Linked DNA regions of Homo sapiens: regions 2 and 3 are each linked to region 1. The links come from fine-mapping of genetic effects on gene expression. A gene starts in region 1. Each other region holds a variant in brackets. All regions are shown on one strand. Distances are from middle to middle.

The links. PIP is the estimated chance that this variant, and not a neighbour inherited with it, causes the effect. A credible set is the group of variants that fine-mapping cannot tell apart.
Region 2: its variant is the best candidate, but not a certain one, in a credible set for the expression of CEP44 in ovary (GTEx, PIP 0.86).
Region 3: its variant is the best candidate, but not a certain one, in a credible set for the expression of CEP44 in minor salivary gland (GTEx, PIP 0.61).

Annotation. Positions count from the first base shown.
Region 1 is chr4:174,278,237-174,289,404 of GRCh38, forward strand. It overlaps CEP44 (centrosomal protein 44), which reads left to right and starts at 5,675. Exons shown (of 12, transcript NM_001040157.3): 1 at 5,675-5,707. It overlaps FBXO8 (F-box protein 8), which reads right to left and starts at 5,431. Exons shown (of 6, transcript NM_012180.3): 1 at 5,174-5,431. RefSeq lists an enhancer at 5,626-5,875 and a silencer at 5,640-5,907.
Region 2 is chr4:174,309,067-174,317,748 of GRCh38, forward strand. CEP44 (centrosomal protein 44) reads left to right here. Exons shown (of 12, transcript NM_001040157.3): 8 at 784-990; 9 at 1,717-1,792; 10 at 7,100-7,224; 11 at 7,464-7,501; 12 at 8,269-8,682. The coding sequence ends at 8,317. Among named protein-coding and RNA genes, the nearest start is that of CEP44, 29 kb to the left of the region's middle. The variant G/A (reference allele first, on the strand shown) is at 3,913.
Region 3 is chr4:174,296,469-174,307,636 of GRCh38, forward strand. CEP44 (centrosomal protein 44) reads left to right here. Exons shown (of 12, transcript NM_001040157.3): 2 at 1,498-1,594; 3 at 2,604-2,742; 4 at 5,571-5,718; 5 at 7,235-7,381; 6 at 7,779-7,901. The coding sequence starts at 2,654. Among named protein-coding and RNA genes, the nearest start is that of CEP44, 18 kb to the left of the region's middle. The variant G/A (reference allele first, on the strand shown) is at 7,833.

The DNA.
Region 1 (11,168 bases):
ACACATAAAAAGCCCCTACTCATTAAATTTAAAGATCTGGTCCTGCAAGAGCAGTTTTTGTTACTAAAAGGCATACCATTTGCAGGTTTTGGTTTTTTTTAATTCAAAAAGATTTACAATATTACTTTGTTCCCTGAAGGTTTTTTTCCTGTTAATTTTATTCTATAAAAAGTGTTACCAAAATGGCAACTAAATAAATGTAAAAATTAAGATGTGTTATTTAAATGCAACCAAAAATCTAAGAATTTTAGGCTTATTCAATTTCTGTGGTTTGTTTTTCAAGAAATGCTCCATTGTCCAACTATTTGAAACTTTAAAATAAATGTATCATACTTCTCACTAGCATTATTTTTAATTATATGGTTCTTACTTAATTGTATCACTATTTACTTAAAGTGGCTGTAATCAGCTGTAGTCATGGTAGCATATCCTAACCCACCTTCTCAGTATACACATACTCACCTGCCCACTAACCACAAAGGCCATTGCTATGAGTGCTATGGAATTAAAAACCAAAACAAAAGTCATAATTCTCACTGAGTTGCTTTTATACAAATAAAACAAGGTATTAAATTAAATGAATATTGAAGGCAGCCAGAAATAGGAGGAAGGTGAAAAATGAGAAAACATTTAATAGTGAAAAGAGACTGATGGAAAGAAAACATGAGTTTGACTCAGTCTCCTTCCTTAGCTAGTAGGGAGCATCAGCCAAGTCACTAAAATTTTGAGGTCTCAGTTTCCTCCCCTGTAAAATAAGGGTTTTGAAACTGGTGTTCCCTAAGGTCTTTTTTAGCTATAAAATTCCATGGTTCCAAGAGTAATTAGACAAGAAAAAAAGTAAAAGACAACCAAATTGGAAAGAAAGCAGTAAAATCCTTTGTAGTTACCCTAAAGATTCTACCAAAAACTTACAACTAATAAATCCATTCAGCAAAGTAGAAAGACATAAAGTCAAGACACAGAAATAAGTCGTATTTCTATACATTTACAATAAACAATCTGAAAAGGAAATTAAGAAAATAATACCAACTACAACAGCATCAAAAAGAATAAAATACTTAGGAATTAACCAAGTAGGTAAAAGGCTTCTGGAATGAAAGCTACAAAACACTACTGAAAGAAGTGAAAGACAAATAAATGGAAGTACATCCTGTGGTTACAGATTGGAAGACTTATTAAGATGGCAATACCACCCAAAGTGATCTATAGATTCAATGTAGCTCCTGCCAAAATTATAATGACGTTTTTTGCATTAATAGAAAAAAATTCTAAAATCCACATGGAATCTCAAGGGACCTCTAATAGTCAAACCAAACTTGAAAAAGAACAACAAAGCTGGAAGACACTTTCTGATTTCAAAACTTATTACAAAGCTACAGTAACCAAAACAGTATGGTATTGGCATAAAAAGAGACATACAGACCAATGAAATAGAACAGAGAATCCAGAAATAAACCATCACATATATGGTCAAAAGATTTTTGACTAGGTGTCAAGATCATTTAATGGGGGAAAGGACAGTCTTTTCAACAAATGGTGCTGAGAAATCATATCCACATTCAAAAGAATGAGGTTGGAACCTTACCCAACATTATCTATGAAAATTAACTCAAAATGGATCAAAGACTTAAATCTAAGACATAAAACTGTAATACTCTTAGACGAAAAAACAGGGCAACAGGGCAAAAGGCTTACAGCACTGAATTTGGCAATGATTTCCAAATGCACAAGCAACAAAAGAGGAAACAGACCAACTGAACATTATGAAAATTAAAAAAAAATTGTGCATCAAAAGACAGTATCAACAGAGTAAAAAGGCAACCCACCGAATGAGAGAAAATATTTGAAAATCATGTATCTGATAAAATCTAATATCTATAATTTACAGATAACTCCTTTAACTCAACAATAACAAAAACATGATTCAAAAATGGGTAAAGGACTTGAAAAGACATTTTTCCAGAGAAAATACACTAACGTCCAATAAGCACAGGAAAATACAGTCAACATCACTAATCATTAGGGAAATACAAATCAAAAGTACAATGAGGGACCACCTTATACCCATTAAGATAGTTACTATCGAAAAAAAAATAAGTCTTGGCAAGGATGTGGAGAAACTGGAACCCTTATGTATTGTTAATGTGAATGTAATACGTATGGTACAGCCTCTGCGGAAACAATATGGAGCTTCCTAAAAAAAAATTAAAAACAGAATTACCATGTGATCTAGCAATTCCACTTTCAGGTATATACCCTCAAGAATTCAAAGCAGGGTCTGGAAAAGATATTTGTTCACCCATGTTCATAGCAGCATTATTCACAACAGCTAAAACATGGAAGCAACCCAGGTGTCCAATAACAGATGAATGGATAAGCAAAATGTGGCTGACACATATAAGGGAATGTTATGTGACCTTAAAAAGAAGAGAAATTCTGGCATATGCTACAACAAAGATGAACCTTGAGGACATTATGCCAAGTTAAATAAGCCAGTCAAAAAAAGTCAAATACTGGATAAGCCCATTTATATGAGGTTTTGGTTCTTTACCACTTTCCAGTAATATGAATACAAACACTTCCGGTTTCCAAAACTGGAAACAAAAGGTAGAATGGTGATTGCTAGGACCTAGGAATGGGGAAGGGGAATTATTGTTTAATAGGTATAGAGTTTCAGTTTTACAAGATAAAAAGAGTAATGAAGATAGATGGTGTTGATGGTGGCACAACATTATCAATGTAATTAATACCATTGAACTGTACACTTAGAATGGTTAAGATGGTAAATTTTATGTTACGTATATTTTACTACAATTTAAAAATTGGAAGAAACAATTCTGTGATCCCATAAAAATAAAATGAGGGAAAAAACTCTGAAAAACAAATTAATAAATAAAAGAAGAGATGATGGCGTGCGTGTGTGTGTATTTAACATCTGTCCTTTCCATCTCTTTTTTCCCTATATTCATGACTTCCACAAATCACTACTCCATATAGAGTCTCTCCAAGCTTGGCTTACTTGCTAAAATCTGGTTCCTTCATTCAAATAGCTTATGAATCCTATGCAATCTATTCTTGAAAAATACACGAACTGCTGACTAAATGGTTAAACTCCCTAAAGCTGTTGCCTAAACTCCAAACCACAAATATTTTTATCTTATATTGCTATAAAGTACTTGCACCAGCACAGTGGCTCACACCTATGATTCCTGAACCTTGGGAGGCTGTGGAAGGAGGATCGCTTGAGCTCAGGACTTCAAGACCAGCCTGGGCAGCACAGTCAGACAAAAAAATTAAAAGAAATAACCACACGTGATGGCGTGTGCCTGTGGTCCCAGGTACTCTGAAGGCTGAGGTGGGAGGGAGAATTGCTTGAACCTAGGAGGTCAAGGCTACAGTGAGTCTTGTTCGCACCACTGCACTCCAGCCTGGGCAACAGAATAAAAATCTGTCTCAAAAAAATACTTGCCCCAAATATGATATAAATTTATTCAAGTCAGCCAAAAATGTTTTAGTTTATTAGAGAGCTAAGTCAAGAAATTTGTCAGAAAAACAAAACAATGAGAGCAAAACGAAAAAGAAATAGTGAACATAAATTTCCAGAAATAGATGTATTTCATTTAAATTGTTTAAAAAATTATTTAAGTAAAATAATTCAAGAAAAAGAAACAGAAATTAAATGCATAATTCTTAGACTTTAGTATTAATGATTTTGATGCATTATCATGGGTCAGTCAATGGAATAGTGCCAGTTTCCAAATCTGAATCAAAATGAGGAAAAAATTAGTTGTACATTAGCAGTTGGTTAAATAATAAACCATAAAGTTACAAATCTGAATGACTAATTTCAACACACTGTGATTAAAGATTTGGTAATTCAATGTTTTTATATTGTAAAATGAGGAAGATATCTTTTAACCTAGCAACAGTAAACACACAAAACATTCCCCATTAAAGTGACCATATGTAATAAATTATGATCAATGTTTTGGCTTATCTAGAAGTTACTATAATATTTTGTGGATGGAAGTAATTGATCCAAGGGCCCCAAGTAATATTAGTTAATTTGCTGTAACTTATTATTAAATGAAGTTACGCTGCACCCTAATTCCTGATGTACAGAAACTGATAATATTTGTTGTTTTAAGCTGGGGTAAATTTGGGGGTAATTTGTTACCCAGCAATAGACAACTAATGAAGTACCTCATCAGACATATTGTCAGGTTAATTGGCTAAAGATGAATTTCTGACCCAATATGAAAAAAATAATAAAACTTATGCATTCTTTATTCTGAAACCTACTCTGTTTCACATATCATTTTCGTGAAGGGTAGAGTTGAGAAGTGTGTAGAGCTCCTACCTCAGAAATACATTACTTCAAACATTAAAAGAAGGAAGAGGAAAGCTGAAATAGAAAACATAAATTGTCTTCACTTTACCGTAATAAAAATCATGATATATTCATTTGTGGATATACACCTAGGAGCCTTGAAAATGAATATTTTACTTGTAAAACAAGTAGAATCAATTATTTTATTAGTAAATTCATACAGAACCTAAAAATAAAACTAAAAAAATTAAATGACTGAGGATTGGGATCCATTTATGTGATTTTGCCAAATAAATATTGAGAACCTTCTACGTAAGAGATTAGAACCCAGTCGCTGAGAAACAAATAAAAGACAAGTTTGACAAGTTTTATAACCCAAGTTTGACTACTGTAGCAGCTAGCAATCCATCGTGATCTTAACTATACTTGTGTTTGCATTCATATTACTGGAAAGTGGTAAAGAACCAAAAACTGTCTAGGAACCAAAATAACACTCGACCCGAAAACCAACACTTGGACCTGAAGAAAGTAACCCTTGTCATTTCTCAGGTTTATTTCACAATGACGCTGGGTTACTACTTGGAGTCCTAAACCGAACTACACCCCAATGGCCTAGAAACAGAAGGAACACACCCAGTTCCGCCTCCTGACAGTGATTCCTCACTTTAATGAGCCACCACTACTGTCACTCAAGATGCTTCGCACTGTCATTGGTCGCAAACTCTTGCTGGTCGGCCAGTTTCGGCCAACTGGCAAGCACTGGTTGTCTTTATTTTCGAGAAAAGTGAAGGTGAACAGGGAAAAGAGACAAGAGATCTAAAATATCTAGGTTGACTCCTGTACCTGAGCGACCTGCGATCTCCACCGCCGCCGCGACGAATTGGCCTCTGGGCGGGGACTTTTAGCCAAAAGGAAAATGGCTCAGCCGGGAACTGGTGCCCAGGCCATGGAGAAGCTGATTCAAACTTTACTTGTCCACACCGGTAGAGGTGACCGCGATGAGAATACCAGAAACAGCACTACGACCCTCAGAACTCAGGGTACCTCCAGCTGCAGGGGCCAGAACTGCCGACTATCCCAATTTTGACGTTTCCTATTGTTGCCGGAAGTGACGTTAGGCTCCGACTCTTAACGGAGACGCATTTTTATTTCTGTTGTTTACGATTCGCTATAGATTCCTTGTTTCTCACTTCGTAGCACGAGCCACTCTGACCATCAAGATCAGAAAAACTTCTCAGCTGCAAGTTAGAAGTGGACTGGCCATTGAGGAGGCTCTCAGCGGAGTCGCTCTTCACAGGAGTCTTGAACGCGGTGTGGAATCGGCAGCGAGGAATCCTGGAGCACAGAGAAGCTCCCAGCTTTGAAGGTCTTGCGGTGGTGCGTGGCGGGCAGGAACCCACAATTCCAAATACAAACGGTCGGCGCGAGAAGCGCTTCTGGGCGCAGGCGCCTGGCTGTAGCGACTGGTTGCGGGAGGCTGGACTCTGGTGACTGTGTATGGTTGCATATGCTCCGTTTTCCTCTCCCTGTCGTGCTGGGCCTTTGAAACCGGCTTCTTTGCTGGTGGCTGCTTGGTGAGCCCCGAGGAGACGGCAAGGCTGCGCCTGGTATTGGGCGGAGGTCGCCTCTCTCCGCCGTCCTTACAGAGACCCCGGGCGGAGACGAATGACCAGATCCGCCTTTTCATTCTTTTAAATCAAATGGCGGGAGGGGAGCCTTGCTTATATACCCAACTAGTATATGCTTTTAGTCACAACGAAGTGGGAAGTATCGTGGTAGCTCATCCTATCAGAATTAGGTTGTGACTTAGGGTTGGAAAGTTATAGGCTTACTGATTCCTATTGGATCCTCTGGGGTGAGGATACAAACGGCTCCTGACTATAAGGAAGACAGGACAGCAGTTCGTGTTTTCCTTGTTGGCATTTCCCCAGCTTTTCAAATATTTCTCCACCTTTATTGAAGGCTACAGATTTTTCCCTCACTGTAACAAGTTAATCTTGAAGTTGTTATTCTCTTTTACTCTGGAATTATGGCCATGCTAGACTGTTTTTTTCCCGAATTATCTGCAGACCTTTTAATTTTATGTGTGAACACAGCAGTCCCGTTGAACTCTTTACTTGTCCCTTACTCCTCCCCACTCCCGCCCAGCTTTCTCGATGCTTTGCCTTTCTCAGACCTTTCTCCTATCTCTTAGAGAAGTATTTCCCTAATATCTTTTGCAGTTTCATAAACTGTTTTTCTCATCTTTACTTTTTTGTTTTTGATACGTGTTTTTAGATAATATCGAGCATTATGTGCTATGTCACAAACTCTTAGCCATTGACTGTTATTAGAGTCAGTGTAGTTGCTTCATTCTAAACAAAAATCACTCTGGTCCAGTGACATTCTATTGGGAGGCATTGTTTTAATGACCTCTAACAGCAATGAGATTGAGCGATGTTGAAAATCCTAAACTGCTAGAGTACACTATTTTCACAACCTCTCCCACAAGTTCAATTGCGCAGATCTGACTTGTAGACAAGGAAGGAAGCTAGAAAGGAATATTGAGAGCTTCTTTATTATTGAATCTATGCTGCAAGCTGAGTGGTATCTCCTTTTTTCCTTAGTTTGCCTTTGATCAGTGCTATAAGTTGAAAATGTTAAATTTTTAAAAGTATTTTTCATTAATGAAAGTAAGGTGTTAAAATGTACATAAGTAATAGATTGGCTTCTTTTAATGTCTTGTTTTTAAGGCTTTTGAATTTTATAGTAGACTTAGTAAAGCCCTTTGTGAGAATGTAGAGCAGTAGCTGTAATTTTATTCTGTGATAATCCCAATTTTAAATCCCTTTATTTTTCTGTCTCCTATCACTTACCTCGTTCACGAGCTCTGCTTGTATTACTCTTCAAAATATTTATTCACTGGTACTGAAGAGAGACATAACTTTGTTGTCAGAAATTCCATTATCAGAGGTAGAAATCATGTAAGAGACACTGAAATGTTTTCCAAAATGTCAGAAAAAGGAAAGGTGAGAAGATATCATAAAGTGTTACGTAAAACAGAATTACTTGCACTGGGAAAATGGAATATACATCTGGAAGGACTAAAGGAAGTCTGGAAAGACATAGAATTTACATTAAAGTTACTGGGAAGAAGGTATCCCTAGAAGAATTGTGTTACGATAGATGGGTCTGGAACCCGAAAGAAGCTCAGACCTACTATATTGGCCAGTGGCAAAATCCAAGAATACATTTTTTGCGGTTAAAGCCAGAGTAGTCCTCACTTCATGTTTTTCAGGAAAGTAAAGGCTTATCTTGGGAAATCCCTTTTAGGCTTCCGTGTGTCCATCTACCCCCAGTCAGTCTAAAGGATATTAAATAGGGTTTACCTTCTTGGCCAGTGTTTTGTATAATGTGATTTCAGGATGACTTTCTCTTTTTCTAGTTATCTCCCATTTGACAGTACCTAAAATTATCTCTGTCTAGAAATGTAAATGTTTAGTTGAAGTAATTTATTGGCTGAAAAATAGTGACTAAAATGTGCATGCACAAGTCTATAAAGTATATTCAATAAGCTGTTGCCTACCATGTTGATAAAGGAGACTAGGAACAGAAAGGTAGGTTCATAAAGAGGGAGCAGTTGCTCTACCCTGGGGAAATGGCTGTGGAAATGAGTGGCGAGGGGCTTAAAGTAGGAAGCTTACTAAATTTAGGATTTTGTAAATCGGTGACCTTCTTACCTTTCCTTATTTAAAGATAGAGAAACGGTGTGTAAAGGGATGATTTGTATCCTGGACAGCTGGGTAATGCGAATTGGAGGAAAAGATCACACTAACCCAGCTTCACCTGATTTATGAATTGTTCTGTTTTCATTTTAATATAATGACTTCATTTTAATGTGATAACTTCATTTTAAAGGAGCTTCATTCTCAAAGGGTTCATTACTCAAGGTATTGTTATGTATTACTTTTCTTCTATGAAGTGTCCATGGACAGTTGTGGTAGATGTTTTTATGTAAGTTATTGAGTTTCACGTTACTGGCTGACTAGACTTTTATAGTTCAGAAACTTACCTCCTTCCAGCAAAGGTTCTTAATCGTTTATATACCTATTTATGACTCTTCTTTGGGAAAAATCTCCTTTGATAATCTAATGAAAGTCCCACTCCATGCAAGAAAATTAGTCATTTAGAAATAAATTCCATGCTATTACTTTTGGGGCAGTTTTTAAAAAATGAATCATTTTGTTTAAAGTCTCAGTTCGTTCAAATCTTTTGGTTCACGTATGTGTTTTTCTGTTGTGTACATTCTTCAGAGTCATATTCCTGTTTCATAGGCCCCATGTATGTCAGCTTTTAGTAGGTATCACCAGTAAGTTTTCCAAAATAATTGTACCATTTACTCTTTCTGTAAAAAGCATAGATATTTTGAATTTCTTGCCTTTTTTTCTGTGTTCACCTTTTCTTCTTGGAAGTAGACAGCTGGCTAACCAGCAGGAGTTTGGGACCGATGACAGTGCAAAACATCTTGACTGACAATGGTGGTGGCTTATTAAAGTGAAGAATCAGCATCAAGAGGGGGAATCGGTGTATTCCTTCTATTTCTAGGCCATTGGGATATAGGTCGTTATGGGACCCCAGGTAGTAACCCAGCTCATTCTGAAATAGAGCTGAGAAATGACAAGGATTAAGTGTTGCTTTTCAGGTAGAGTGCTATTTTGGACCCTTGGCACAGATTTTGGTTCTTTATTATGATAAGTACCAAGAAGGAAAAGAACTGGGTCTATTAGAGAAAATTAATGAGGGGGATTAATTAGTTTGGGATCTAAGACTTATTTGAGGTGGTGACATTTAAGCAGGATGCCGAGGGGTATTAGCCAGATGGAGAATGGGAGAGGGAAGGAGTTGCTCTGTATCTCTTCAAGCTTGAAGAAATGGCATGTGCAAAGGTGTTGAACAGCTTGAGATATCACCAAACATCCTTATCCAGGTCCAGGAACTTTATCCCAGATACCATTTCTGTTATTTGTTGCTTTCTATAATATTTTAAATTAACTAAATCACACACATTCTCTTTTTCATCATTACTTGGTAAGTGGAATGTTTTGATTTTCCCTTCTGGTTATGATTTACATGTATTAACTTATTAATACACGAAGATCAAAAAGTGACCAAAATTGTTCAAAAGGTACAATTTATTATAGGATAATTATAATTATTTCATGCTGACAATATGTTTATAAGTGTTTTGCAGTAACCTTTTTGTTTCTATAATTTCATGGTAAGAAAGAAAATGAATTAGGTAGAGCTAGTAATACCAGGTATAGACAAGAATGTAGTATTTAAAGCTAATATCTGAAATTCTCTTCTTGCATCTGCTAACTGAACGAGAAAATTCTGTGTGTGAGAATGGAAAACTTTGGGTGAAAAGTGAAAACTTGGATTTTGTAGTCCAGGCCCTTAATTAAGTAGATAACACACTCAGAAGGAGAAAATTTGGGGTGCTTTATATACAAAGGGACTATTTTTAGAGGTGTGTGTACAGGGATCTGGTGCTGCTTCATTTTTTAACCTGTTTATTGCGGTATGATTGACATACAGAAAGCTATAGACATTTAATGTATACAGTTTCTGTTTGGAGATAAGTAGATATTGTGAAACCATCCAACCATTATTACTACAAGAAATCAATGCCATCACCTTGAAAAGTTTCCTTCTACTCATCTTTTTTTCACGTTTTGTGATAAGAGCACTTAACATTAGATCTAACTTCTTAGCAAAATTTTAAGAATACAATATTGCTAATCACAGACACTGGGTTGTACCTGCAGATCTTATTTATTTTGCCTAACTGAAACTTTGTACCCTTTGAACAACAGCTTCCCATTTTGTTCTCCCCATGTTCCCTTACAACCACCATTCTATTCTCTGCTTGCATGTATTTGACTATTTTAGATTTCACATACATTGAGATAATACAGTATTTGTCTTTTTGTGTTTAGCTTATTTCACTTAGCATAATGTCCTTCAGGTTCATCCATGTTGTTGCAAATGGCAGGATTTCCTTCTTTTTTAAAGGCAAATTTGTTTATTCTCACATTTTTGTTGGGGTCCCTAAGGTTTTCTACATCTAAGATCATGTCATCTGCAAACAGATATTGTACCTCTTCTCTTTTTATTTGGATGTTTTTAATTTATTTTTCTTACCTAGTTATTCTGGCTAGGACTTAAAATACTACGCTGAATAGGAGAGGCTAAAGTAGGCAACCTTGCCTTGTTCCTCATCTTATGGGGAAAGCTTTCAGTTTTTTATCTTTAAGTATCTTAGCTGTGGGCTTCTCATAAATGGACTTTATTTTGTTTTTCCTTTACCTAATTTGCTATAAGGTTCTTCCATACCTAGTTTATTGGGAGTTTTTATCACAAAAGAGTATCGAATTTTGTCAAGTGCTTTTTCTGCATCTGTGCAGATGCCCATGTGAGTTTTATCCTTCATTCTATTAATGCAGTATATTACATTGGTTGGTTGTCATATGTTGAACCATCCTTGCATCACAATGAAAAATCCTACTTGGTCATGGTATATGATTCTTTTAATGTGCTGTTGTGTTTGGTTTGCTAACATTTCATTGAGGATTTTTACGTCTATATTCATCAAATGTATTAGACTGTAGTTTTCTTGTAGTGTATTTGTCTGGCTTTGGTATCAGGGTGATGCAGGCCTCAGAATGACTTTGGAAGTGTTCCCTCTTCTTTTTTTTTTTTTTTTAGATATGTTTAATAAGGTTTTGTATTAATTTTTCTTTAAATGTTTGCTAGAATGTATCTGGCTCTTGGCTTTTCTTTGTTGGGAATTTTTTGA
Region 2 (8,682 bases), 30 kb after region 1:
GTGTTGGGGTGATGCAAAGTAGAATAAGATATGGTACTTGGCTTTAAGGAATCTACAATTTAGTGAGACATAGCGATATGCTACTTTGCATAGTGGAGGTTCTCTACCACCTATTTTCTTTATTGGTGAATGGAAAAGATTGGCACTTTATTGCCTATTCATTTTCCTTTCTGGGTCCCTGCTGTTATTTTCTGTCTCTCTTAAAAAACCATTTCTATTACTCTTAATTGCCACAGACCCCAATATGTCTGATCTCTACTGTTTCTGCTAAGACTTCTTTTTCTGTGTTTCTATGTCTTGTGATTTCTATATATCTCAGTATATCAATATACAGTTGGCACTTACAAAAACTACCAGATGGCCATTGGACCTACTTCCTGTTATATGGCAAACCGAACAATCTCAATGCACTAAGTGTTGTTTTTGGTCATTTCCTCTTAGCTTTGTGCTAAGCGTTGTTTCAAGAAGCTAGTTAATAATAGTTTTATTTTACTAGCTGGTATTAAGAGAATCATGCAAATTAACTCATTATCAGAAGAATCATATGAAATAGATACTGCTCTTATCTCTTTTTTTTTAATGAGGAAATGGAGGCATCAAGATCATAAATCTCAGAACTGGTTTAAGTGGCCAAGTAGTCTCCATCCAGAGATAGCTCTCTTAACTCTCAAGCAGGACGGTCTCTCCTAACTGTTGAGATAACGCTGTGGAAGTGAGAATACATTAATTTTAAAGAAATTTCAGTTTGTTTAATTTTATTTTTAATCTCTCTAACCTTTTTAGGATGTAAATGTTAATCCTGAGATTACTGCACTACAAACTATGCTTGCTGAATGCCAAGAAAATCTTAAGAAACTGACTTCGATAGAGAAAAGGTTAGACTGTTTGGAACAAAAAATGAAAGGAAAAGTGATGGTAGATGAAAACACCTGGACTAATCTTCTTAGTCGTGTCACTCTTCTTGAAACAGAAATGCTTTTGTCTAAAAAGGTATTTTCCTCCTTTAACATTTATAAAATATCTCAGATATAACAAAGTTTTTTTTTGATTGTTATATGTGTATTTTTTTGGAAATGCTAAATATGAGAATATTTGAATAATGAGAAAATGTCTAGTTAGAATGAAGTCCTGTTTAAATATAGCCTGTATGTTGTTGTGGCTGTTGTTTCTCTCTTCATTGAATAAGATAATCTGAAAAACTTGTCAGTTGAGCTTTTACAGATGTTAATAATGCTTGAAGAATTTAAAATGAGGTAAGAATATGATAGATATGAAAAGCTTAAAATTATTTTATATCTTTTAATAGTACAAATAACCTATTTTCATAGGGTAGAAAAGATACAGAAGATATAGGTAACTCTTCCCATCTTTTTTTCACTCATTTACTTCAATCATATTGTGAATTTCATAGAATAGTTACCAGATTTACCATTGCCTTATCAAATCTGAGAAATTTGTTTTTTTTTACTCAGGATTTCAATTTCTGGTCTGTCTTTCCTTCCTAGAAGGTGAAGTCAAGTAGCTTGCTATCTGCTTCCATATTTAAAACATTTCTTATATGTAGGAATATGCAGTATATGTATTGCTTTAATAAAAAATTAAAAATATTTAAACATTTATCATGCTACCTTTATATTTTATGCTCAGCATTAAGAATATAAAATGAGAGGGTTTTTCTTTTTATTTCATTCTAAATATTTAACTGTGTTATTCCAGAATGATGAATTTATAGAGTTTAATGAAGTTAGTGAAGACTACGCTTCTTGTAGTGACATGGACCTTCTGAATCCTCGTAAGTTTGTAAATACTATGAGAATTGGTATGATGAGTTTTCAGAAAAATGATTGTTATAGTAATTTTAATATTCTTAAGCTTTATTGTTTAGAAATTGCAAAGCTCCTAGAACAAAGAACATAATGAACCTACAGACTACTAAAGCCAAGAATTGCTTAACTAACCAGCCTACTTATTTCACATAACATAGTGGGTGAATAAATTTCAGTGTACAAAATTGAAAATTTTTAGAGATATTTTACTGTTTTAATCATTCGAGAATAATCAAGTGCTCTAGGATATTAATGTTGGCCTCCAAGTTTTTAAATTTAAGCTTAGGTAGGTAGTAGCTTTCTCATATGTAAATAATAATATGTAAGAGAAGAAAACACATTTGTCAGTATCTATAAAGTATTGCAAACTTCTTCCATGTGAATAGTTCACTGATAATGATAAAATGGGAAAGATCTGATATTAGGATAGGTCTTTTCCTGGTCACTTTACTAGGCTACTGATATTTTGCTTAGTGTGACTGAGCAGCAAGGGTAAGATTTCTGTTTTTCAGTGACAGCTTTGTTTTGATTGTTATGTATTTTTAAAAGATCTAAATTTTGTGCCATATCTATGATTAAATCATAGCTATAGAAGAGATGTTTTGTCCAATTGAGAATTCATCGTTAAGTTAAATTTTTAATATCTGTGGATTGTTAACGTTATAAAATCTTTCAGCTCTACTATATGTGTAACAATAAAATAATATATATTCTAGCACTAACAGTGTGCCTGGCACGATTCTAACTACTATATTAACTCATTTAATTCTTGAAGTAACCATTGCAAGATAAGTACTATTTTTATATTTTACAGTTGAGGAAACTGAAGTACAGCAAAATTAAGTAACTACAGCAAAGGTCACACAGTTATTGAATTGTAGATCAAATTTGAATCCAGGCAACTGATCTGAAGTTTTTTCTTGACTGCTGCATATTTGGAGCACATATCAATATCATTGCACAAAGAACAATTTCAGTGATTAGCTTGTTAAGTATAATTATTTGAGATGCTATTTAAGGCAACTAAATTTATTATAGGCTGCAGATTTCAGATTTGGTAAAATGTTGCCTGTTTTATTTATCCATTCATATATCTATTCAACAAATGTTAATGCTTGAGTATAAGATCCTTGAGAGCAAAAACTTTATCTTATGGTCTGCCTGTCTAGCACACAGAAAGTATGTCGGTGCTTTTATCACCAGTATTTGCATATAGTAGAGTTTAAATATTTATTCACTGAAAGAATATTGAATGCTTGTGATTTGCAAAACATTGCCTTTTTCAAGTTTGATTTTGCATGCTCAGGCTTATTTTTTTTTAATGACATGATTATAGAATATACCTTTAACCTATTTAGAAAACACATGGCTAAGTTTTTTTTTTTTAATTTTTTAATTTTTTTGAGATAAGTGTGGTCTTACTCTGCTGCTCAGGCTGGAGTGCAGTGGTGCAATCATAGCTCACTGCAGTCTCCTAGATGTTAACTCCTTGGCTTAAAGTGATCCTCCTTTCTCAGCCTCCTGAGTAGCTGGGACTACAGGTACGTGCCACCACACCTGGATAATTTTTTATTTATTTACATACTGTTTTTAGTAAAACAAGGTCTTGCTATGTTGCTCAGGCTGGTCTTGAACTCCTGGGCTCAAGCAATCCTCCCATCTCTGCTTCTCAAAGTACTGGGATTACAGGTGTGAGTTAACATGTCCGGGTTCACATAGCTAAATTTCAACAACTGTGCCAGGACTGAAAGTAATTAACAGGCCTCTATCTGAAATGGATTACAGATTATGATTAGGTTGAATACCTGGTCTCATAGAGTTTATGATCTGATCTAGATTAATTAAAAGACTCAAGTTTATAAAGACTTACACATTATACCTTATACATGCTACTTGGAAATAGGGTTTGATTTCATTTGAATGCAGAGAGCAATAATTTACTACTCTGGGTTTAGGATCATATTAAATCAGGAATAGTTTTTGTGAGGTTCCAGATTTGTTTTGCCTTTATCAGGAATACAGTGTTCCATGGGGAATTGTAAGGCACCTTAATGTCTTGGTAAGAGTGAATTAGCAGAGGCTTTTA[G/A]GGATTGGACTTGTGTTGGATAATTTTGGAGAGGGTTTGAGGAAGCAAGGGCTACGGGTGCTGTCAGGGAGCAGGAGCAATTTGATGATTGATGGTAAGAATGAAATTTTTAGCATAAAATAAGTACTCATGTTAGGCAAGGGGGGCTATATCTGCTCATTTATGTGGTTACATGGTGCCCTTGTTTTGTCTATGTTCGGACATGAATGGTGGTTTTGGGTGTGTTGTTTCATTATGCTAATGAAGTGACCTCATGTGATGTTCTTTTTCATGAAATTATTTATATTCATTAGAGGGTACAGTAGTTTAGGTGTTAATTGCCAGACAGGGCACCAACTGTTAGTGCTCCTTTTTTATTTGCTTGTTTGTTTCGCTTTGTTTTGTGCCTTTTTTCCCTCAGAGGAAAAAAAAAAAAAAGGTGTGCTACCACAGAAGAGTGTGGTTTGTTCCTGTGTGACTAGCAGGAAGGGTACATGTGAGCACCTGAAGGAAGCTGTAGCAGAAGAGTAGAAAGATCAAGTCATGGAGTTTATCCCAGAGTCGTAGGAAGATTTTCAGCAAGGCTAATATTCTTAGGTTTGTGTTTCACAAAGGTTATCATCAAAGCAGAATAGTGATTTGTTAGGAAAGTAAGATAGGCAAGGATAATTTGAAGAGAATTTTAGTAGTCATTATTTCAGAATAATAATGAGGGTCTCTACTAAGGCAATGATAGTGAGGATAAAGAGCAGGTGATTTATTTGGGAGAAATTTAGATGTTAAAATTGATATGCCTTGATCCTGATAGATACAAAAAGGGTGAAGGAGAGTAAGGAAGGTAACACTGACTACTTGTGTTTGGCTCATGTGATTGGGTAGGTGATTGTTACTCTTTAATAAAATAAAAAATTCAGGAAGAGGAGAAGGTTTGGGAGAAATAATGAGTTCACTTTTGAATATAATAAATTATATATGAAATCCTTAAGACAGAATATCTAGAAATCAGTTGGATACATACATTGGTCCTTGATTTAGAAGTATTGGCTTACAAATTATTAAATGGTAAAGGACCCTACTGATTCCCTTCGTGGAATAAGGTGATAAGCCTCCAAAGATGGCAGTGAAAGATTAGTTGTTACGTGGTAAGAGTTGGGTAGAAGATTTCATGTCCCATACCCCCATAATCTTAGAAGTAGAAGAGTCCCTTTCTTTACAGAGACTTCTTAGCAGTCACTACTGAAGTACATAACAACTGGTGTCAGGGTCCTTGTGTCAGTGGCCATTGCCTTTCCCCTTTCCTTTCCAACCTGAACTCAGTTACCAATTCTTTTCTCAATCCCCTATAGCACAGCTAAGAAACTATTAATGTTTAAACAAGTAAGGCTTTACTAAAGGTTCAGGATAGCAATAAGAAAAAATATAGAAATTAATGTGCAGTTAACTGATCTGGCTATTAAATATAGCTGGTGTTCTGTAATGGTCCACTCTGTAGCCTCTGGAATCCTCTGTAGGAATAACTATGAATAGCCTGCCAGCCTGCCAAATACCAGCTTTCTCCCACCATGAGGCACACTCTTGAATAAGGTTAGACACCGCAAAGTCTGGACCCCAAAATGGAAGACAAAGAGAGCCATTCCTTCACCCTTTATCTGTCTTCCCGGACCTGTTTCCTTTTCCTAGGGCCCCCTCCTCTTTTTGGAAAGATGTCCGAAATGTTCAGGACAACTATCTGTACCCACAGAAAAAAATCCAAGATTTAGTGCATAGTAGATATAGTTCCTGCCTAATTTCAAATTATTTCTTAAAATAACCTCTTGTCCATAGCTCCTACTAAAAGATCTGGGTTTAGGTAGTCTTCAGAATTACACCCTGTAATCTTGACCTCCAGGCTTAGCTAATTGGATTAAGAGTAGACACCTGACCCAGAGAATTCCAGTTCAAAGTGTGATGAGTCAAATTACATTCTCTCTCTTAGCATTTGGAATTAGGACACCACGAGTTAGTTAGTCAAATGATATTGAGCCTGGGCCGGGCTGGCCATGTGGTGGAAGTTTACGCTGATGAGTCAGCAGAGAAAGCCATTCTACAGAGAAGAGCTGAGGGATGGAGCAAATGGCAGAAGTAGGCAAAAGAGACTGTGGCTCTATGAGAGATAAAAATTAGTCTTCTAGTTGTTTCAGTTCTCAGTGGTAATAGTTTGTTCCCCAATTAAGGTTGTCTGTGTAGGCTTACAATAAAGCTCTCTTTATGTGAACCAATTTAAATGGGTGTCTAATTTTTTTTTTTTTTTGCATTGCTTTTGCAGCCAAATGTATTCTGACTGAAACACAGGGTTTGTAGGATTTATTACATTATCCGTAATCTTCTCTAATTGATATTTTTGTAGGGGAGATGCCATCATTTTGTCAAATTAATATTATCAGGATATTTGAAATGTTAGGTTTTTCCGTTTTTTAGAAAAAGAAATCTGTGGATCTTAAATTTTTGCATTACTTATTTTCATATATGTCAAATCAAGTTAGAATGTTTCTTGATTTTTAAAAGATATATATGGTCAGTTATAGTAATAGTTGTCACTTGCCACAGAACAGTAGTAAAAAAATTTGTGAAATGCTTAAATGTTGCTGAATAAAAGCATCATGACAAATTCATGGATACTAATTATTTAATGTAAATATCACCATTTTAAGAAAAGAATACGGTGAAACCCTGTCTCTACTAAAAATACAAAAAATTAGCCGGGCGTGGTAGCTGGCGCCTGTAGTCCCAGCTACTCGGGAGGCTGAGGCAGGAGAATGGCGTGAACCCGGGAGGCGGAGCTTGCAGTGAGCCGAGATCGCGCCACTGCACTCCTGCCTGGGCGACAGAGCGAGACTCCGTCTCAAAAAAAAAAAAAAAAAAAGAAAAGAATATACATGATTGATTCAATAGGTTATATTTTAAAATAAATTATTAACTTACCTGTTTATTCAAACTGATTGCTATCATGATAATAATACTGCCTTTTGTAATTTTTATTGGGCAATTTTTAACATCTAGATCTCCATATGAAAGCTGTTACCTTAAGAGTACTAAAAACTCTTTGATCTATGCGGATAGCCATTTTTAATTAAAATAGTATGTTTTTCTTCCATCTGTAAATAATATTTTTAGATATTTGACTCTTCTGTGAAAGGAAAAGGTAATCTAAAACTTAATTTCTTCACAGACAGAAAAAGCGAAGTAGAGAGGCCAGCAAGTATTCCTCTGTCCTCTGGCTATAGTACAGCATCATCAGATTCAACTCCCAGAGCCTCTACTGTTAATTACTGTGGTTTGAATGAGATTTCAGAGGTAAGAAAATGCTTAGATTATTTCCTTTCTAAATGAGGAAAACAAGCAAGCATTAGCTTTTGTTGTAAATATTGCTAGCAAGAAAAATAGCAAACGCGAATCTTAGTCTCTCAAAATTCTTTCATAAGTAAACAGTACTTAATGCAATGTTTCAAACTGTGTTTTGTACATTCTCGGTCCATCTTTGATGATGGTTTACTTTGAGAAATCATCTAAATTTGTTGCTTTTTAAATTAAAGGAAACAACAATCCAGAAAATGGAAAGGATGAAAAAAATGTAAGTAACAGAAAGGGGCAACAGAAATTCATTTCTCTATAGGGAATTGTATTGGATTACAGTATATATAGAATGTGCATGTGTGTTTCAAACCTTAAAGGTCTCTCAATCAGGTGTGGAATTTCCTTCAGGACTCCACTGGATAATAAATCCACCTACAGTTATGTGTTTGTGAGATGAGTCACTGTTTTAGTTTCCAACAAGCGATTTAAAACTTGTTGGAATTGTTAATGGAATTAACTGCAGAGAGAATACAAAGATATTTTTGGTTGGTAACTAATCAAGAGTATTATCTATTTTTGATAACTGATTTATCAAAATATTAAATAATATATATAGATGGATGGTTTGGAGACATTTTCAGTGTTGTGAAAATATCACTGGTGTTTTTCGGCAAGTTATTGATGAGATACTAAAAATGATGTTTTTGTCTAGTACAAATGGTGTGATTTTTCTAAAGAGCAGTTCAAAGGAAATATGAAATGAAATTGCATATAAGATGATTATGCAGCCTACTACTATAGAAAATTATAATATTATTTAGAAATGCAAAAAGTACTTAACTTACACTTCAAGAATATGACTCATAATCGACTCCTCTTTGTCTTCCCTCTGGTCATACTTAAGTTTATTCATAGTAACTGTACTTATAGATAAGAAAAATATTCAAATTTATTTTAGGCTAAAAAGCATAATTTCAACAACTAAAATGCTATGCTTTATTATGAATTATTGATTTACTTAATATATTATTTATTATATTTCAGGTTTGAAGAAACTGCAGAGTTACTGAAATGTCCAAATCACTACTTGTAGGATTTTCTACATGAACTTTTTTCTAGGACTTTGGTTACTATACATATTGTATATTTTAAGAATTCTTTATACAATTTTAATATACTGCAATACTGCAGTTTTTGACAATTTGGATTCCATTTGGTATATGAATTTTTGCATTCATTATTGAATAACTCTTTTAATATTTTTGAGCAATGATTATACTGCTTTACCTTGTGTCACTTTTTTTTTTTTTAGGAAAAACTCATGTTCCAGTATATTTCTCTTACAGAGTGAAGTCATTACAGCACTGTATTTCTGTGTTGACATTTGTTGGCAGTGTGCTAAGTAATGTTTTTTAAAGCACAGGCTTGAGGACTATGGTTTACATCCTGTTGGAAACA
Region 3 (11,168 bases), 18 kb after region 1:
TGTGTAACTATAATTATCTCCTCAAACTTGTCTTATTTAAATTTTTATTTTTGCCATCATTTTCAATTCTGTTGTTGATTTCTATTTAAATCCATTGTGGTCTAAAAGCAGACATTGTATGATTTATACTTTTTAAAAATGTGTTAAGGTATGCCTTATGACGCCAAAGATAGTCTATCTTGGTGGATGTTCCATGTGAAATTGAGAAGAATATGTATTCTATTGTTGTTTGATGAAGTAGTCTATAAATATTTGTTATATCCAGTTGATAGATGATATTGTTTGTCCTTACTGATTTTTTTTTTTTTTTTTTTTTGCCTGCTGGATCTATTTCTCATAGAGGAGTGTTGAAGTCTCCAACTAAAATAGGGGATTTGTATATTTCTCGTTGTGGTTCTGTCAGTTTTTGTTTCATATATCTTGACATTGTGTTGTCAGGTGCATATACATTAAAGATTGTTATATTTTCTGGGAGAATTAAGTCCTTTATCTTTATGTAATGACCCTATGTCCCTAATAACTTTCCTTATTATAAAGTCTGCTGTCTGAGATTATTATAACTGTTCCTGCTTTCTTTTGATTAATGTTAGCATGGTATATTTTTCCCTATCCATTTACTTTTAATCTTATAAACAAAATGGATTTCTTATAGACAACATGTAGTTAGATCTTATTTTTGATCCACTTTAACAATCTCTGGCTCATTTTACATTCTCACAAGCTTAATATTTTTTATATCCTTCTATTCTTGTTTTAGGTTTTAATTTTTTTTTCTAATCTCATTGAGAATTGAAAGCTTCATTTTGAAATTTTTTCTCTATATTATCTCTATTTCCACCAAATTTTTCTTCTCTGCTTATTTTGTTTAAGGTATTTATATATACTTTTCATACTGAAGCTTCCCTCTAATAGTTATTGACCTTTGGGCATATATTCAGTTTTAAACATGAGTCTCTAAGAAAAAAAGGTGCCTGGTTAGGGCTTATCAATAAGTGAGTTTGCTGCAGGTTTATTGGGCAAGACCTGCCCTTTTCAATGGGGATTTTCCTCAAATGTCAGAAATGTGATACTTTTTTCTCTAGGTCCATCCACCTTCTCTAGCATAGAACCTGATAGTCTGCTGTCACAGAGGATGTAAGTCTAACAGCTTCTTGAGGCTGAGATATAGGAAGAAACTTTATTAGTGTGTGTGTGTGTGTGTGTGTGTGTGTGTGTGTTTTCATTAATACTTCTTTCTGCCTTCGAACACTTCCTTCTGTATTGTTCGCCTTGCCTGATGTTACCAAATTTAGTGCCTCCTTGATTCAATTTCTTTGGAGTGTAAAGCTCTTTTCTCTTTCCAGGGAAGGTGAGAGGTAGTTGCCTTGCTGAGCAAGTTATGTGTGTAGGGATAGGAGGCGGGAGGGAAAATAAATTCTAGGGTTAGCTGCTTCTTATGTAGACTCTCAAATAATCATTCTTATTTCAGCCCCCTGGACTTACCCCTTTGTCTTTCAGAAGCATCAAGTGTACCTGATTTGTGAACCTATCTTGCTTCAGTTGGTTTCCTCCTAAATATTAGGCAGATGGGATTGGCTGGTCTGTGCTCTGCTAGGTTGGTTATCCCTTATTCATTTGCTTTTCATTTTCCAAAATTTTGTTGATACTTGTTTTGTTATGTGAAATCTCCTGTAGTTCTTTTTGTCCTGGTGGGTATATATGATTTTTTTTTTTTTTTTTTTTTTTGAGACGGAGTCTCGCTCTGTCGCCCAGGCTGGAGTGCAGTGGCGGGATCTCGGCTCACTGCAAGCTCCGCCTCCCGGGTTCACGCCATTCTCCTGCCTCAGCCTCCCAAGTAGCTGGGACTACAGGCGCCTGCCACTACGCCCGGCTAATTTTTTGTATTTTTAGTAGAGACGGGGTTTCACCGTTTTAGCCGGGATGGTCTCGATCTCCTGACCTCCTGATCCGCCCGCCTCGGCCTCCCAAAGTGCTGGGATTACAGGCGTGAGCCACCGCGCCCAGCCATGATTTTTAATTATTTACTTTCATTTTAGTGATCTTTAGAAAATGGAAAGGAAGGTAACATGCATTTAATCTGTCATATTTATCCAAGTGAACCCTGCATTTTTAAAATGTATTTTTAGTTTTTAGGAAAGGTATCTTTTTGGCAACTATGTGAGATCAGAGCCCTGTGACTCTGATTAAATCTGCGCTAAATTTGTCTCCATTTTTTATTGATTGTGTTATGTAGCTTCTATAAGCATCCAAAAGAGTCACTGATGGATGTTATTCCAAGTTGATGTGTCTTCTCAAACGGTGCTTTATGCTTAAAAAAAAACTATTTGGGCAAGTGTTATATAAGATACATTATAATAAGATGAATATAAGGCAAACTTATTTTTTTGGGAGGAAAACATGTAGGAGGGTAGGGGAGACACCCTATATTCAGAAACTTATAGTAGTTACAAAGTAGAACTTGAGTAGTAGAGAAGAAGCTCGGGGAAAAAGAGCTAGGGTAAGATAAATATGGTAAGTGCCAATAGGAGATATGACCAAAATAGAATCAAGAAGCTTCAAAAATACAGAGACTTAACCAGTATTTCATGGATTTCTATTTTCAGGTGAAAAATTAGACGATTTCAAGAATTGGAGCTGAATCTGATGTTAAGTAATGGCAACAGGTGACTTAAAAAGAAGCTTACGGAACCTAGAACAGGTGCTCCGCTTGCTAAATTATCCTGAAGAGGTGGACTGTGTAGGGTAAGCTATAATATCAAACTTAATTGTATTCTTCTTGCTAGTGATTTGAGATGATATTTAACATGGGGGACTACCTGAGAAAAATCAGATTTTACCTGGTTCCTATTTAAATCTGCCTTGAAATGATTAAAATATTTGAGAAAGCAGGGAATTATAGGAGTTTATTTCTAAGTATGAACTAATGAAGAATTCCAACTTAAAAGATTTAAAACTGTTTAGAAGCACAGTATTTATCTGTATAAGTTATAATCTCTGTACAGCTTTTAAACTCATAGAGGTATAATAGATTTTATTATTTGTATAATCTACCATTCTCTCATATTCAGTTGGATGATATTTCTTACAGTTAAATATATCCAGAATAAGAAGAGATTGTTGCCATTTCTTGTCAGTCTTTTCTTATCATTTATTTGTTTATTCTTTTATAGAGGAAAGATTTTATACATTTAAGTCGAGTGTTCTTTTTCATATGGAATATTCTAGTTAGTAGATTTTTTTGTGTATGGCAACCTGAAGATTGCGCTTAAGCTCTCCCATTTAACAGACCCCACTTTGAACCTTTCACTTTAGCTCCCATTTTGCAACTATGACAACGTTTTTAGAATATGGCAACATACATTTTCCTATATTCATGCCTATATAATATGGTACTGCAGTCATTCTGTATCCCTTCATAATTCTGTTTCTTCATGACACTTACCCTTAACCTTTTATCATTGATTAATTGATGGATTGGTTAAATGTTCATTGGTTACTAGAATGTAAGCTGAAGTCTTGGACTTTGTTTTTTGTTTTCACTGTGGAATCCCCCCATCTAGAATTATGCATGGCACATATTAGGAGTTGATTAGACATTTATTGAATGAATGAGTGTCCAGGGACAAGTCCAAGTTAGATGTTCAAGAGTAGAGGGAAACTTGTAAGTAGAATCCTTCAGTAATGGGCTTTACATATAAGAATGGATATCCATATAAGAATGGATATTCTAATAACTCTTGAGGTTACAGTAGGGAGAGGTAACTCAAGAGAAGGCTGAAAGTGAAAGGATAGAGAGGAGAGTAAGGAGAAAGTTTAGCTCAAGTTGCTGTTATTATAGGCATTATATGTGAGAGGCAGAAGATATGAAACAGATGTAATCCATGTATGTAAAAATCATCTTGATTCCTCAAAACATGAAAATCCTGACCATCCAGAACTTGCAGGGGTTTAACCAGTTTGAGTAGCCAAGTCTTCTCCTTGCCACTTTAAGTGTCAACATTTTAAAAGACATTTTAAATAGGAATAATTCTAAAATATACCAGTATTATCTTGTTTTCTAAATACAGTGTTTAAACATTTAATTTTCTTATTACCCAAAAGCATCATTAAGAACAACAATTTTTAGATTATTATATAACATACTAAAATCTGCAGGGTCTATTGAGATTTGAAATGCTACTTGCTTCTTCCACAGAGGCACTCAGATTGCTAGTCTCCCTGCCACACACATTTAAGCACACACACAACACCCCCATCATTTTGATTCTTTTTTCTACTTTTTCACATTTGTTATGTTTTCTGGCCATTTGCTGTTTTTTGTGTTGGCATCTGTTTTTCTTACTGTTTCTAATATGCTAAGTCCTTAGGAACTAGATAATCAAGATTTTTGAAATTGTTTAACATAAAAAGTGTTAAATGTGTGCCTGGCTATCATCTATGTATAGTGTGCATAAAATGGACAGATTTTGCTGTTCAAAGGTATTTTTTTTTTCATTTCCTGTTTTTGGACTGTGTTTCAGATAGACAAGGTTGCCAGAGGAGTTTTCTGATTGGGTGAAATATTACAGTATTTCAAAGAAACATAAAAGAAATAATTCATATTTGTCCAGTAAAACAAAATGCAGTGCTATCATCATGTATTTGTTCTCTGTCTTACTAAAAATTTGGGTGGAGATGGGGATGTTTATGTGAACATCTTGAATTTTTTGGAAAACATTTGCTTTATATAAGTACAAAATACTGCAATTGAACAAATGTAACTGGCAAATTGAACAAATACCTCCTGTGCTTTGTTGTGGGAAAATCAGTGAAGGTACTTCACATTGAGAAAATAAGACAGGAAACACTACCAGACAGATAAAGACACAGCAGATACTGAGTAGCCTGGGAGTCTTTCTTGGAGAGATCAGTATAGATCAGAAAGTTGAGGAAAGCTTCATGGGAAGCTTGAGATTTGATGAATGATTTGTAAAAAATAAATAATAATTGGATAAGCAAAGAAGAGTGGGATACCTTTCTAGACTGGTGGAATTAACATAGGTAATAATATACGATTTAGAAGGAGCAGTAAGTGAAAAGTAATAGACTGGTCAACCAAGTCACAGTTCATGCTTTTTCCCATCCCATCTTCCTCATCTGTAACTTAGAATTCATAATATTTACCTTTGGAAGTTTGTGGTAGAGAGCAAAGGAGGTAATAGAACAAGTGTTTGCAAAACCATAAAGTGTACTTCAATTTTGTAAGATGGTACATTGCTTTTATTAGTAGTAGAAAATGGAGTAGATCACGTAAGACTAAGCTTTGGAAAATCAATGGTAAATAGTTGGTACTAGAGACCTATAGTAAGTTTTTTGAGCAGACGAACAGTGGTATTTCATAGTAGTCTGGCTAGACTGGTTTCAAATGGGGAATGGAATCTAGAAAGTCTCATGTATCACCTAATTATTATAGCTATAGTGTTAAGTTTTAAATTATTATAAACATTTCTAATATTTTCTTGATTATCCAACTTTGTGGAATTATGCTTATTAAATGCTTATTAAAAATATTTTTCTTTTTTTCCTAACAGTTTGATAAAGGGAGACCCAGCAGCATCTTTGCCCATCATCAGCTATTCTTTTACCTCATACTCACCTTATGTAACAGAACTTATAATGGAATCCAATGTAGAGCTCATAGCAAAAAATGACTTGCGCTTTATAGATGCTGTCTATAAGGTATTTTGAGTTTATCAAACAATAACTATTAGTTATTGAATGATTTTTAAAAATTAATGATTTAGTCATAACTTCTTAAATATATGCAGCATATACAATTGACAGGATATTTTCATTTGTATTTATCTCATTTAAATGTAGTCTCTATTGAAATCAAGATGCAATTCATGTTTGCTTTTTGAATGTTACCTATTCTAATAAATACAGCAACTGGTAAATATTTGTTGTTGGCTATTGTTTGCCCTTTTTAATCAAATTTTAGTAAAATTTGATATACTGGCAGAAATTAGAGAGTAATGTAATTATATTCAATAAAACTTACAGTTTTTTAGAATTATATGTTAATTTAGTTGTTTGTAAGAAGGAACTATTACTGACATTTTTTTTTTATTAAACTGATATATTCTTTGAGGTCTGAGAGCATGTCTTATATTGTATCTACCCTAGTATTTATACTTGTACTATGTGTATACTGAATTTAATCTCTTATTTGATTTTTTTAAAACCCTGCTTTTATCATTAATTTTTGCTTAAGTACTGTGGTTTGTATTAAAGTTAGTTTTTAATGGTAAAAACCCACTTATCAAATGTAGTCTATTTTTTTTTTTTTTTTGAGACAGAGTCTTGCTCTGTCACCAGGCTGGAGTGCAGTGTCACGATCTAGGCTCACTGCAGTCTCCGCCTCCTGGGTTCAAGCAGTTCCCCTGCCTCAACCTCCTGAGTAGCTGGGACTACAGGCGTGCACCGTGACCACGCCTGGCTAATTTTTTGTATTTTAGTAGAGAGGGTTTCACCATGTTGGCCAGGATGGTCTCGATCTCCTGACCTTGTGCTCTGCCCACCTTGGCCTCCCAAAGTGCTGGCATTACAGGCATGAGCCACCGCACCCAGCCTCAAATAGTCTTTTAAAAAAAGCAGAGTTGCAGTCAATGAAATGGGAGCTTTTATATGTAGTCTCTGTTTAATCTTTCTCTTTCTTGCTTTTGATCCCAGAAGACATCCATGGAAGCCTAAGAGGCACTTTTAAGAAATTCTAGAGCTCCACAGAGTAGATTTAGGAAACTACTGATCTAGTGTGTTTTTTTTCATTTTACAAATGAAAAATTGAGACCAAAAGGCCTACTGACGTATCCAAAAATCACATAGTGGAAGAGTTATAAACAAATAGAACTATAGTTTCTGACTCTGGTATGGTATTCTAGTGAACTAAGAAGTTTTTCTAATATCTCTGAAGATATTTACACTTTTTGATGATTGACTATATTTTTCCATCTCTCTGGACAGACATCTGTTCTCCAGCATATCCTTTGCTACCTGTTTTCCACCTGATACCTGTCTTACTGGATCATGACTTAACACCAGCCCTATGAATTACTTTAGTACTCTTTAGTTAATGGCTTGGTTTTCCTTGTCCTCTCAAAGGTGGCCATTATTCCCCTGACCAGGTGGGCATTATCATTTGGAATTTTAGAAATAAATTGCTCCCAATTATTACAAGAGTCTGTTTCCTCTGCAGCTTCTTCGTGATCAATTTAATTATAAACCAATTTTGACAAAAAAGCAGTTTATCCAATGTGGGTTTGCAGAATGGAAAATCCAAATTGTTTGTGATATTTTGAATTGTGTGATGAAAAAGCACAAGGAATTAAGCAGTCTTCAGAAGGTAATTTTATGAATAGATATTAATGCTGATGTATGCTATTAATAGATGGCTCAGTATTTTAATGTATAAAATCAAAACCCTAGACAGCAAATTATTTCATAGTGTAATTACTGTATTATTCAAAGATTTGAGTAACCTTATAAAGCTTGTTGTTTATTTTAAATACTACTCTCTTGTTTTATACACCTGTGACTGGGAACTCCTAGTGTTAAACTAATAGTTCAAACATAATACATTTTCATTACTTCTTAGTTTTTAAAAGTCATGTAGTCTCATTAGAGTCTCATTATTTGTCAGCTATATTTCATATATGAAAATTTAAATGTTAATGGAATTTTAATATATAATTATGCTTTCACACAAAATTTGTTATTTTGACTAATACCTTTTTTTTTAGATTCCATCACAACAAAGAAAGAAAATCAGTTCTGGTAAGTCAGAACCTCCTTTG[G/A]GCAATGAGAAAATATCTGCAGAGGCTGTTGGCGTTGATATCAGTGGCAGGTTTATGACCTCAGGAAAGGTATGCAACCACAAAGAAAATATCATATTGTTTAAGAGTTATCTAATTAATCCAATATACAGTTTTCACTTTTCTGATTGGCACCTGATGAACATTCTAGTTAGATATTGGAGTTCATTGATTTTTAACAGTGCATGCCATATATTTTTGGGCAGTATGCCTGAAGTTATAACAATAGGATAGAAATATAAAATTAAATACGTGTTCTCTTTATATTTCTAATTTCTAATTCTGCCGGATTTCCTAAACAGAAGAGTAGTGATTTAGGAAGATTATCTTATGCAGTTATCTACATTTGCTCTTAATTGTGTTCTGGTCTTCCTAAAACATGGGAACATATGAAGAGCCTACATTAGCAGTAGTGATAGGTTATAATGATTCATTTATGTACATTATATTTCTGTAACCAAGTATGAATTATCCAATAATTGGTAGTCCCTACACGTAGAATCTGGTTTTCAGTTAATATTTTGAATATTTTCTCTTTCTTGAAAGATAATTTTTCTGCCATTATCTGCTTTGAGCAGCTGTGGCAAATTGAATCTAATGCACTTAGAGCTACAGTGTTTCTATCACTAAGGGAGACTTAAGCTAAAATATTATTTATTAATATATTTTCAGCTGTCTTCCAGCTGGAGAAGACTCTGATTGAATGATAGAATATCAGATGAATTATCAATGGTGTAATTAAGTAAAGGATGTGAATACTTTCTGACTGAAGTATAATCTAGAGTATTATTTCTGCCCTAATCCAAAATACATGAGTTATGTAAACAGAATCTATTTTAAAAATTTATTCTTGGGTCTAGCACAGTAGCTCATGCCTGTAATCCCAGCACTTTGGGAGGCCAAGGCAGGTGGATCACCTAAAGTCAGGAGTTTGAGACCAGCCTGACCAGCATGGCGAAACCCCATTTCTACTAAAAATACAAAAATTAGCTAGGCGTGGTAGCTGGTGCCTGTAACCCCAGCTACTTGAGAGACTGAGGCAGGAGAATCGCTTGAACCCTGGAGGCAGAGGTTCCAGTGAGCCGAGATTGTACTACTGCAGTCCAGGCTGGCTGACAGAGCGAGACTCCATCTCAAAAAAATATGTTTATTCCTTTATACCTTAAAAAAGTGAAATTTTATTATAAGAAAATGTTCTTATGCCACTTCTTTTTAATGTACCTGTTTTGCTCTAGGTAATGAAGACAATATAAAGAATGATACAAAGCCGCCATTTTTGAATAAGTGCATGTAGTTTTTGTACACTTGCATCTCTAACTCATCTAACTCTTGTTAGTTTTATTTATGATTTTCTAACTGTTAAATGACTTATATCTTGTATTCTTCCCCAACTAGAAGGAACATATATGAACAGGGATTTTCTTATACTGATTTTTTGTACCTTCATTTTGCTTAGCACAGGATTAGGAACACTGTGAGCACTTATTAATTATTTATTGATATAATGTGCTTTTCAATGTTCTATTTCAGTATGAGAGTTGAGGGGACAGTGTAAATTGTCCTAGCCAAGAAAAATGTAAACTTCAAAACATTAGACTTATTTTTAATTTTCTTAAAGCAAAGTTTTCTTTGTTATCTATTAAAATTTATACCAGATCTTTATCAGAAATTTGAATAAGTATTAAAAGTTCTCAGATTTAGAAAAGAGTCTACAAGTACATTTCTTTGTTTACAAGCAAAAGTTGAGTCAATATTAAAGCAAATTGTCTCCTATCCCAGTGCCTTATATAGTATGCCTATTTGCGCTTCTGAGTCACATATGTTTTTATAGTGTGTATGCAAACTGTAGAATAGGAAGCAGGTAGAGGATTTCTAGGTAAATGCATACCGTGACCTAATGCTTTTTTTGTCAGGACTTCTTCGTTGTCATTATTAGGTTTGAATTGTTAGCTGAAGGTCTAATAAATTGCAGTTTGTTTAACAGAAAAATTGTAATGAGCCCTACTCATAGAGCCAGTTTTTGATTATTTATAAGTGAATTATTTGGCAATCTTTTTTAAAAATAACTTTTTATTATGGAACATTTCAAACATTTACAAACATACCCATCATCCAGTTTCAGCAATTTATCAACTCTTTGCTAATCTTGTTTTGTCTTTATTTTAAATCAAATCTCAGACATAATTTAATAAATATTTCAGCGCTTGTCCTAAAATGTAAGAATTGTTTTAAAAGTCATAACCCCAATTTTATCATCACACATAAATTATTGGTAATGTTAGTAATGGTAATATTTTGATATATATATTATATGTGATAATTTAAACTTTTTTTAATTTTTAAAGATTGGTGTTCCTTTTGCAAAATTGCTGTATGTTTAAAATAATTGTAGGAGGATCTTCTCAGCCCAAAAGCTTCTTAAGCTGATAAGCAACTTCAGCAAAGTCTTGAGATACAAAATCAATGTGCAAAAATTGCTAGCAATCTTATCTACCAACAACAGTCAAGCTGAGAACCAAATCACAAACAAACTCCCATTCAAAATTGCCACAAAAAGAATAAAATACCTAGGAATCTAGCTAACAAGGGAGGCAAAAGATCTCTACAAGCAAAACTATAAACCATTGCTCAAAGAAATCAGAGATGACACAAACAAATGGAAAAACATTCCATGCTCATGGATAGGAAGAATCAATATTGTTAAAATGACTGTACTGCCCAAAGCAATTTATAGATTCAATGCTACTCCCATTAAACTACCATTGACAGTCTTCAGAGAACTAAAGAAAACTACTTTAAAATTTATATGAAACCAAAAAAGACCCAAATAGCCAAGGCAATCCTAAGGAGAAAGAACAAAGCTGGAGGGATCATGCTACCCAACTTCAAACTATACTACAGGGCTACAGTAACCAAAACATCATGGTACTAGTACCAGAACAGACACATAGACCAATGGAAGAGAATAGAGAACCCAGAAATAAGACCACACACCTGCAACTATCAGATCTTCAACAAACCTGATGAAAACAAGCAATGGGGAAAGGATTCCCTAGTCAGTAAATGGTGCTTTGATAACTGGGTAGCCATATGCAGAAGATTGAAACTAGACCCTTTCCTTACACCATACACAAAAATCAACTCAAGATGGATTAGAGACTTAAATGTAAAACCCAAAACTATAAAAACCCTGGAAGACAACCTAGGCAGTACCATTCAGGACATAGGTGTCGGCAATGATTTCATGACGAAGACGCCAAAGGCAATTCCAACAAAAGCAAAAGTTGATAAATGGGATCTAATTGAACTAAAGAGCTT